Linked DNA regions of Homo sapiens. The protein of the gene in region 1 purifies or fractionates together with the protein of each later gene. This does not show direct contact. Each region holds a gene or a part of one and is shown in the gene's direction. Other genes may lie near its edges.

The links.
Region 2: the proteins of ARSK (region 1) and PON2 purify together in Homo sapiens (affinity purification with mass spectrometry; 3 studies listed by BioGRID and IntAct, with this or other methods). This does not show direct contact.
Region 3: the proteins of ARSK (region 1) and MAPKAP1 fractionate together in Homo sapiens (co-fractionation; one large-scale study listed by BioGRID). This does not show direct contact.

Annotation. Positions count from the first base shown.
Region 1 is NC_000005.10:95,565,050-95,568,704, forward strand, and holds part of ARSK (arylsulfatase K precursor), read left to right. Parts: intron 1-948; coding exon 949-1,078; intron 1,079-2,840; coding exon 2,841-3,000; intron 3,001-3,655. UniProt on the Homo sapiens protein: Catalyzes the hydrolysis of pseudosubstrates such as p-nitrocatechol sulfate and p-nitrophenyl sulfate. Catalyzes the hydrolysis of the 2-sulfate groups of the 2-O-sulfo-D-glucuronate residues of chondroitin sulfate, heparin and heparitin sulfate.
Region 2 is NC_000007.14:95,410,892-95,414,546, reverse strand, and holds part of PON2 (serum paraoxonase/arylesterase 2), read left to right. Parts: intron 1-2,069; coding exon 2,070-2,235; intron 2,236-2,767; coding exon 2,768-2,894; intron 2,895-3,655. UniProt on the Homo sapiens protein: Capable of hydrolyzing lactones and a number of aromatic carboxylic acid esters. Has antioxidant activity. Is not associated with high density lipoprotein.
Region 3 is NC_000009.12:125,700,556-125,704,210, reverse strand, and holds part of MAPKAP1 (target of rapamycin complex 2 subunit MAPKAP1), read left to right. Parts: intron 1-3,655. UniProt on the Homo sapiens protein: Component of the mechanistic target of rapamycin complex 2 (mTORC2), which transduces signals from growth factors to pathways involved in proliferation, cytoskeletal organization, lipogenesis and anabolic output.

The DNA of each region.
Region 1 (3,655 bases):
TTTGGGTTGGCTCATGTTCTAAACTGGAATTTATTTATAATTATGTTGAAAACATATAATAGATAGAACTCCAGGACTGGAACATTCTTTTTTCTGTTCTTGCTCTTTACCAACGTGAGTTCTTCAATTCCCAGTTCATCTCCAAAATGCATATCTCCAACCCAAACATCTCCTAATCTTCAGACTCACTTATCAAGCTGCCTAATTTTTTTTTGTAGAAACAGGGTCTCCCTGTGTTGCCCAGGCTGGTCTTGACCTCCTGAGCTCAAGCTATCCTCCCACCTCAGCCTCCCAAAGTGCTGGGATTATAGGCATGAGCCACCACACCCCACCCCAGCTGCCTAATTGATATCACCACTTCCATCTCACAGATATCTCAAACTTTGTATGTCCTTTAAATTCTTTGAATAGCTGGATCCTGTTCATTCTTTAGGTCTCATACATCCCAGAGAAGGCTTCCCTGTCCACACTGTCTAACGTAGGTCTCTCTTGTCCTTCTGTATCTCGGATTTTTTTCAAAGCACACGTCATAATTTGTAATTATTCATAGTTTATTTGCCAGTATACTTTTTGCCTCTCCCACTAGACTGTAAGCTTCATGGGGCCTAAGACTCTGTTTTATTCACCATTGCATCCTCAGATTTTGCAGTGTCTGGCACATAGTTAAGTATTCAATAAATACTTAGTCAGTTCATCATCCCCCAAAAGAACATTCCAGGAAGTCCTTTATTTACTGTAGTTAAATGAATCCAAGTGTAACGCTGCACTGAATTCTAGCTATTTATGTACCAGATACTGGAAACACCCTCTATACTTGTTTTGTTTTTATCTTTGGAGGATTCTTAAAATCATATTGAAGTCTTCTGCTATTGTAAATTTTATGGTTAAAGAAAATAATTTTCTTCTTTGGTAATGTAATCAATGCTAATTAAATTTCTTTATTTCCAGGATGGAAGGTTAACATTTCATCCAGGAAGTCAGGTAGTGAAACTTCCTTTTATCAACTTTATGAAGACACGTGGGACTTCCTTTCTGAATGCCTACACAAACTCTCCAATTTGTTGCCCATCACGCGCAGGTATGAACATCCTTAATATGAATGGGAGAAAGTGGCTACACACTGAAAATATATTCACAGTTTAAAAGATTATACCTAAAAGTAGAATAGTTGTATTTGGCCTCAATAAAATTGTTTTAATATAAAAGATGTGCATTTTAAGGTATATATTGGCTATTGGGGTTGTTCAAATTGTATTTTTCAAGAGTAGGAATTTTTATCATTTAGAAAGGTGTCTAGTTCATGTGTTACCGTTTTATTTCCTTGTGACTGGGGACTAAGAATCTTTTGGCCATCCAAGAAAATGAGGGAATACTCATATTTCCTAGAAGAGTTCTGTTTCCAGGGAAATTTTTCAGTAACGGTATAGGTAATTGGGAGGACTTCTATGAACATTAGAGTATACCATAAAGTAGTTACAACTTATATTCAGATTTACCTGAATTTTTTCTTATTATTTCAGATTACATACTTTACCTCTTTCTTTCCGTCTCAATTCACTTTTATCCCAAGTCAAATTGTTCACTTTTATTATAATAATTTAACAAATAGGCATAGTTTTATTGGCAGAATGTCAGTGACATTAAGCCATGAATAATTAACAAATAGGAAAAAACTGCCATTTTTATAAATTCTATCTATTGTCTGATGGTTGTTTTCCTTTTCCCCTGTCTTCTGGTTTATGTTTGTTGCCTTGGAACACATAAATGGCACTCAGTGATTTGGTTTGTCTGTAAATGAGATGATTTTCTCTGTGATTTGAGTTATAACTTCTTTCACCTATATTTTCAACACTAACAACTATATTATTACCAGTGATGAAAAGAAACTAAACTATATTGTAAATGATATTTCAATAATGAAGGACCAGGCATATTAAAAAACAGTTTTGTTAACTGTAAAGTAGAATGAGCAGTGGGCTAGGGTGAGACAATGACCTGGATGCTAATCCTCAAGCAAGTCACTCAGTCTTCTTATCTGCAAATTGCTGTGTATACTGTGTACCTCACAGGGTTGTTCTGAGCATCACATTAAATAACGAATGAGAAAGTGGCCAATGAACCCTAGATGTCTCAAAATGTTAGATGTTGTTTTTCCTGGAAGAAGTATATTTTGAAGAGTAAGCAAGGTCAAATAATTTGTCAAAGACCACTCAGTAACTGGTGTTATTGGGATTCAAACCCAGGTAATCCCCCATCCCACCTCTCAGAAAACATCTTGCTAGATGAAAACAGAAAGCTTATTCTAACTTTCTATTTATGTACACAGAAATGGGAAAAGGAAAAAAAGTGTTTATTGAATAAACAATCATAGTTGTAGAAAGTGAGAGATAAGGCATAACACACTACGTTTTTTGTGGAAAGCCAGCAAAAGGACAGGGAATAAGGGAAGATCCTTAAGGATGTTGGGGAAATGAGATCTGTACTTCAATTGTCTGATTTAGAAAATTAACCAATAAATACTTAGGGATTGTTTTTATGATTGAAAGAGGCCTCTAGTCACACATGCTTTGTATTTAATTCCAGCTGTATTTACCTTAAGTAACTTAAGCACTAAGCGTTAGTCAACTCATCTGTAAAATGGAAATAGTAACTCCCCACAGAGTATCACTCTGATAAAATGAGGTAACAATCAGAAATGTTTGGTAAGGCACCTAATCTGGGTACGTCTTACTGCAGAGCATAAGCTCTTCACTAGTGGACTGCTCTCTCAGAGTAATTGTCCTAATAGTTAAATTGTTAAGCTTTACCTTAATCCCAATTCCTTTTTTTTTTTTTCTCAGCAATGTGGAGTGGCCTCTTCACTCACTTAACAGAATCTTGGAATAATTTTAAGGGTCTAGATCCAAATTATACAACATGGATGGATGTCATGGAGAGGCATGGCTACCGAACACAGAAATTTGGGAAACTGGACTATACTTCAGGACATCACTCCATTAGGTAAAAATAAAACAAAAATAATCATCATGGACTGCCCTCTGCCATAGCGTGTACATGTACTCTTTTTGACTTTAATTTTTTTATTTTTCCACAAAGGTGAAAGTAAATCTCTTAATCCCTTCATTGTGTTAATTAGGCTGAAATTTTAGCTTTCTTTCATCTTCCTAAAACATTAAAATGGCTAATATACTAGTCATTTTGTTTTTCTTAAGCATTAAAGGTCTATAAATAGTGTTTGTAAACTCGTTTAGCCCACGCTTTATTTTCATTGAATTTCCTTTAATGGCTACTGTATTATTAATTTTAAAATCTGTTTTTAAAACCATAGCCTTCTTGCTGCTTTCGTTGGTCAGTTCTCTCTAACTTGAGTCTATTGTAACTTTTTTTTTTCTTTCATTTTACTAAGTCCTCAAAAACCAGGCAGCCAAGCATAGTGGTTAAGAGTAGAGGTCAAGAATCAGATTGCCTGCTTTTGAATTATAGTTTCTGTTTACTACTAGCATTGTAGTAGTCTGATCTTGGACACATTGTCTAAATGTTGACACTGTACTTTAATTTCTTTGCTGTGAGGATTAAATGTATCAATAAGTTCAGAAAAGAGCTAACATAGGAGGCCTGAGACTGCTCTCCTTAGAAAGGCCTGCTTGGAAGGTTG
Region 2 (3,655 bases), on another chromosome or scaffold:
AGTAATAAATCTGAAGTAGGAGGGATGAGGTCTCCAAACACATAAATCTACAGCCATTTTAGCTTGGGGGCATGTTATAGTTACAAAGATCTTATAGCCATATCAATAGAACTTTTTCTGCTTTTTTTCTGTTACCCTCCTTTGCTCATTTGACTTTTTTTAAAATTTAGAAACATTCCCAGTTTGCTGCTGTTTTTCATTTACTTGGCATTGTCTCTAATAAAACCTAGAGTGTACTCTCTTCTAAATAAAGAGGTCCTACATTGTGGAGGTTGTTCATTCTTCTTCCTAGCATTTTAGCTCATCTAACCCAACCTATTTTACAGTTATGGGTTGAGGGTCACCTCAAAACTAATGTCACACTTCATGAAGAATTGGATGACATAGAATAAAATATAAAAAATGTAAACAATGTGAGTGTGCTTAACACCACTGAACTGTACACTTAAAAATGGTGAAAGTGATGAATGTTGTATGTATTTTATCATAATTAAAAATAAATTTTTAAAAAGAGAAAAAATACTTAAATAAATAAGGAGTGCGAACATAACCATGACTAGTTATCACCATCTGATAGTGCTTCCTTTGCATGTAAATCATGCTTTTGTTTTGGGGACATTCATAAAGAATAGGGATTAACTGAAGTGGCACTGCCATGTAACAATAGCATAATTCCAGTTTGTTCTACTTACCAGGCTTGCCCTCCATGAAAATATACAATTGTAGATAATCTTTTTTAATTGGAGAGATTTCCTCTTATGTCCAATTTTATACATAAAGTAAGACTTTTTTATTGTGTGCCTAAATTTGTGTAAATATGACTGCATCGTATTAGTAAACTGAATTAGGTAGTGCATTCACATAAAATTTAACATCACCAAGAAGGCTTTACCTTAAGAATGTAATGATGAATCACCATTTTAGATAGACTGATAGGTAATTTATTAACTGATTTAAAAGAGAAAAGACCTATATCATCTCAGTGAGTACCAAAAAGCATTTAATAAAATTCAATACTCATTCCTAAAGTTCCAAGCAAACTAGAAAGATAAGGAAAATTCCCACAAAACTACAGCAAACATCATTCTTGATGGTGAAGCATTGGCTGCATTTGCATTAATGCTCAGAACAGGAAGAAAATACCCAACACCACAACCATCAGTAATCTACTAGAGTTCTTAGTAATTCAGTAAAACGAGAAAAAGAAATGTGAGATAGAAAAGAAAAAGACAAAACTGTCATTAGAGAAGCAGGGACTGGCTCAATTGCCCAGGCTGATGTGCAGTAGTGCAATCATAGCTCACTGCAGCCTGAACTCCTAAACTCCTGCGCTCAAGAGGTCCTTCCACCTCAGCCTTCCGAGCAGCTAGGACTACAAGTGCTCACCATAACACTCAGCTAATTTTTTTTTTTTTTTTTTTTTTTTTTTTTGTAGAGACAGAGTCTTGCTATGTTGCCCAGGCTGGTCTCAAACTGCTGGCCTCAAGCAGTCCTCCCACGTCAGCCTCCCAAAGTGCTGGAATTATAGGCATGAGCCACCAGGCCTGACCTAAAGCTGTAGTAATTTAAAAAGTGTTATATTGGCACAGGAATAGACATGAGACATTAAAATAACAAAACAGAGAGTCCCTAAATAGACCAATATGTAAATGTCAGAGATCTAGCACATGATAAAGGTGATATTTTGAATCAGTGGGAGAAGGATGGACTGTATGCCAGGCACTGTTCCAGGCACTGGGATCTAGCAGTGAACAAATTTCCACAGTCAGTATGTAGATGTCACTTTTCTCCACCCTCAGCTCTCCCTGGAATCACCTAGTCCACCAACCTTCTGATTACTCTCTGAAGAGAATAAATCCCTGATCTTCTTTTCAGTTATTTTCAGGCTTTCAGTATTCCACCTCCCCGTTATTATTTTTTCTGTTATCTTTTCTCTGTTTTTTGAGTTTTTGTGGCTTTATGCCACTACTTTAACCACAATCTCTATTTATCCTTCATGTACAGTTCCCATGTTAGTCCATAAAAATACTTAAGCTTTTGTATTTAACATTTTTCACCGTTTTGGAAAGGGTCTAAAATTCCCAGGACTCCACAGCTTTGCACCAGATAAGCCTGGAGGAATACTAATGATGGATCTAAAAGAAGAAAAACCAAGGGCACGGGAATTAAGAATCAGTCGTGGGTTTGATTTGGCCTCATTCAATCCACATGGCATCAGCACTTTCATAGACAACGGTAAGAGCCAATGGGCTACCAACATTTAGTAACGTGTGATGGTTCACAAATGACTGTGAAAAATAGATTTGGATCATATTTCTAGGAAGAGAAGAACAATTAACTCATGAGTGATTTCTGTATTCTTCATTACAAAGAACTTGTTCATTTGCCTCTTCAGCTGGCAGTAAGTTATGCTACATTTTGAAATTCCTAACAGGTAACACCTGAAAGAATGTTTAGATTTCATAATCTTTTCATATACCTACGATCATCACATTTAAAAAAGAACTGTATTTTTGAATTAAAGTAGAAACAGATTATGCATGAATTCTGTATATGGAGTAGGAAACACTTTCTTAAAGGTCAGGGAGCCAATGATCAGAAATAACACCAGACGGACAGCAATAGGAAAGACAGAGAATGATCTGTTAGGTCGTCTAACAGCTTATACATTCAACCTTTCCTTGCCTGTGGTATTTAAATGTCAGTGCCTGCCCAGAGGTCCCGTAGTTATGTCTTGTAAATTAACTCTGTTCTTTCAATTCTTTAGATGACACAGTTTATCTCTTTGTTGTAAACCACCCAGAATTCAAGAATACAGTGGAAATTTTTAAATTTGAAGAAGCAGAAAATTCTCTGTTGCATCTGAAAACAGTCAAACATGAGCTTCTTCCAAGGTACTTCCTCATTTTGTTCCTTCTCTAATTTATCCCCAGCATTTGCAAACAATCCCTATGGTGGGTTGTCCTGTCATCTTTTATAAGCGCTAATGTATATATTAGCTAATATGTAAGAGCTAAAGAGCTTATATTTCCTTATTTATAAATGTGTGTGTATAGTTTCCTTATAAACCAGGGCAAGCATGGCATATGAAAGTTGATGTCACTCATACTATTCACTGTTCTATGCGGACTCCTTTGAGAAATGATGAAGTGCCCGACTACAGGGTGATACTCTTCAGGCCCATCTTGAGGGTAGAAGGCAAACCCTAACATTTTTTCCTGCTGTCACCCTCCATCTTAGATGACTCATCACCCAGATGAGTGTCTTGCCAAGGAAGAATGGCCTGTTTTTTATTGGGTTTGTATGCTTTGCATGGGACTTTATACCAATCGCTTTCATAGGGTTAGTGATGGTTGCATGCTAGTAATCCCACAGAATTAGAGCCACTCAAGTTGAGAGTGAGTCATTACACTTCAAGAACATAAAGCTGGTTGAAAATGTGGCTAAGAGAGAATCATGTGTACCCCCACCCCCAGTTCAGTGTGTATTAGCCTACTGCTTCTTTTAGTTTAAACTTGATGAATATTTTTAATTTCTAATGAAATTTCATTTCTAATGAAATTAAAAATATTGCCTATCTAGGGCCTATCTATGCCTATCTAGGGCATAAGCATGTAACTTCCAATCATTCCTTCCAAAAATGCACTTGATAAAA
Region 3 (3,655 bases), on another chromosome or scaffold:
GATTATCTGCTGAACACTGAGATCGGCACTCTTCATTACTACACCATGTTGCTTGTTCTTTGTGATGTGGATGCGGACCCTCTGGAAAGGCTTCAGAGAGAAACTTGCCCTTGAGCTGTAGCTTCAGTGTGCCAGTCATTGTGAGACAGGAGGGATCACGAGGAATGGAAGTGGCCTTTGCACTAAAGGAGCTCATAGCCTTATCTGTTACTTTAAATGTTTTTCTTTTTTGGTGGGGGAGCTTGTTTTGCTTATTGACTTATACCTGAAGACTTCAGAAACTTTTGCAGTTGAGTGGATTTATATGATTCAGCCTAAGATAATTTGCTGGCAATCTGTTATTCTGATGTATAGGCCTTACTGTTACGGACGCAGTTGTAGATGTCAAATTATTATATGACAAGGACTTCTGTCACGTTACTTGTTTTTTTTTTTTTTTTTGAGACAGTCTTGCTCTATCACCCAGGGTGGAGTGCAGTGGCATGATCTTGGCTGACTGCAACCTCTGCCTCCTGGGTTCAAGAGATTCTCTTGCCTCAGCCTCCCAAGTAGCTGGGACTATAGGCAGGTGCCACCACGCCTGGCCAATTTTTGTGTTTTTAGTAGAAACGGGGTTTTGCTGTGTTGGCCAGGCTGGTCTCAAACTCCTGACCTCAAGTGATCTGCCTGCCTCGGGCTCTCAAAGTGCTGGGATTACAGGCGTGAGCCACCATTCGTGGCCACATTACGTTTTTTCCCTATGGGAGGTGCCCTGACTTGTTTCTGTGAGTTCGAAGTTTTTGTGAAGTTTTTTGACTCAGAAGTCAGCATATTTCAGCTTGTGTTAAATTTAAGAGGCTTAGTGGTTAAATATGTTACTTAAGAGTCACAGAGCTAATGTGTGATAGAGCCACAAAAAACTGGCCAAAAAAGAGTAAACAAATCTTCATTAAATTATTATTATTGTTCTGTTTGAGCATCTTCCTCAGTGGTCTCCAAGTCCGATGCCTGTTATGTACTAGGATGAGTAGGCTGGGCCTTGATGAACTGGAGAGCACGGGCCCAAACTAAAGGGAGCAGTTGCTGCTCAGCTCCACTTGCTTGTTGCCATGTGAGGAAGTGGGCCCAGTGTCCTTGGATCTTTTGACACTTTTTGGAAAAGATGCTGGAAATCTGGATTTTAATTTATTCTTATTTATTTATTTAACTTTTAGAGACAGGGTATCGTCCTATCAGGCTAGAGTGCAGTTTCGTGGTAATAGCTCACTACAGCCTTGAATTCTGGGCTCAAGTGATCCTCCCACCTCTGCCTCCCCAATAGCTAGGACTACAGGCGCATGCCACTATGTGTAGCTAGTTTTTTTTTTTTTTCTTTTTTTGAGACAAAGTCTCGCTCTTGTTGCCCAGGCTGGAGTGCAGTGGCATGACCTTGGCTCACTGCAATGTCCGCCTCCCGGGTTCAAGCGATTCTCTTGCCTCAGCCTCCTGAGTAGCTGGGACTACAGGTGCCCATCACCACGCCCAGCTAATTTTTGTATTTTTAGTAGAGACAGGGTTTTGCCGTGTTGGCCAGGCTGGTCTTGAACTCTTGACCTCAAGTGATCCGCCTGCTTCAGGCTCTCAAAGTGCTGGGATTACAGGGGTGAGCCATTGCATCCGGCCATGTACTAGCTAGTTGTTGCTTTTATTTTTTTTGTGGGAAGGAGTTTCGCTCTTGTTGCCCAGGCTGGAGTGCAATGGCGCGATCTTGACTCACTGCAACCTCCACCTCCTGGGTTCAAGCAATTCTCCTGCCTCAGCCTCCTGAGTAGCTGGGATTACAGGTATGCGCCACCACGCCTGGCTAATTTTGTATTTTTAGTAGAGGCGGGGTTTCTGCATGTTGGTCAGGCTGGTCTCGAACTCCCGACCTCAGGTGATCCACCTGCCTTGGCCTCCCAAAGTGCTGGGACTACAGGCGTGAGCCACTGCGCCCGGCCTAATTTTTAAAAAAATTTTGTAGAGATGGTGTCTATCTATGTTGCCTAGGCTGGTCTTGAACTCCTGCCTTCAAATGATACTCCTGCCATGGCCTCCCAAATTGTTGGGATTACAGGTGTGAGCCACTGCATGTCGTGGATTTTAATGTATTTAGTTTAAAAATTTGCCATTAAAAATTATGTTGATCAAAACATATTTGTGGGCTGAGTGTAATTCTAGGCTGCCTGATTGTGAACTCCAACCTACCTGGCTGCTGAAATTTTGGTACCTGTTGTTCAGAGCAGGAAGTATACAATACAATGTTTTGATTATTGATTAGAAATCTCATGGTAAATTGCCAGTGTGAGGGGGCATTGTAGCTTGCGCTGATAGTTTTGGAGAGTGGCAAGGTCAATGCTTTTATTGTATAATCAAGCTAAAGTATAGATCTGGCTGGTGAGATGACCTTATAACACTTCTATTTTGTGCTCTTAGCACTTTAAATGCTACCAGATTTCTTGTCTCTTGGCCCTCTCCACAATAGTATGAAGTGGTATGGTAAATTTGTTAAATGCTCTTGTATACCTTATTTTCTTTAGTCTTCATAGTCCTATGAGATAGGTAGTATTACAAAGGGGGTAATCATCACCTCTTGAGATGAAGAAATCGGCACCCAGTGAATCACAGTTTAGTGGAAAGAGCAGTTGACTAGAGAGGGTGTTGCATCCTGAATATGCGGATACCACTAACAGCCAGTGAATCACAGTTTAGTAGCAAGTGCAGTTGACTAGAGAGTGATTTGCATCCTGAATATGCGGATACCGCTAACAGCCTTTGGAGTTTGGTCACGTCACTTACAAATCCTCGGATCTTTTTTCCTTTTTGGATAAATAATGAGGAGTAAAATTCAAGTCTTGCTGAAATTCAATTCGTAATATCCTATACTTGAGTATACTTTTACTAATATACTTTTATTACTGATGCAAAGTATACTGAATGTGTAAAACTTCAAAAAAATAACATTTTCCAGTTCCCTGCGGACTCATTTTAAGGTACTGTGTTACAAATAAGTACCATTTCAGCAGAGAAATTGGTAGAAAATTGAAGGAATGGTTTTCTTTTCGGGATGCCAAGCTTTCTGTTTCTAATTGATATGCTTAAAGTCACACAACTGATTACTGGCAGACTCCAGTGGAGATGACTCAAATCTAAAATGCTGCCCCTCCTCTCTTGCTGGCAGGTCAGGAACCACTACTCAGCTCTTCATCTGTTCTTTATTCATTACTTCCTCTGGGAAAGGCCCTTGATGGGCCAGGTGCTCCCCCAGTGCATGCAGTGCCTATTGACTATATGTACTCAAGATTGAAAGGGGGCGTAGAGACACCCAGCACAGTGAGAGAAATATGGTCAGGGAGTTCCCAGCCCAAGAGTTTAATTTATTTTTATTTTAATACCCAGCTTTCACAAGGTGAAAATTGAAGAAATACTGGTCTTGTAGATACTTGTTTTCATTCATACTCTATTGTATAAGGAAATAACAGAATATAAAAATAAAGGGAATAAATCCTGAGCAGTCATTCAAAATTTATTAACTCTAGTTGGCAGCAGTCTAGATATATTGGGGAAATGGATTTAATATAGGCAACACAAAATTTGGACTGAAAGTAGAATACAGTTTTATGTAATTGAAAGTGAGAAAAATGGGAGAAACCACTTA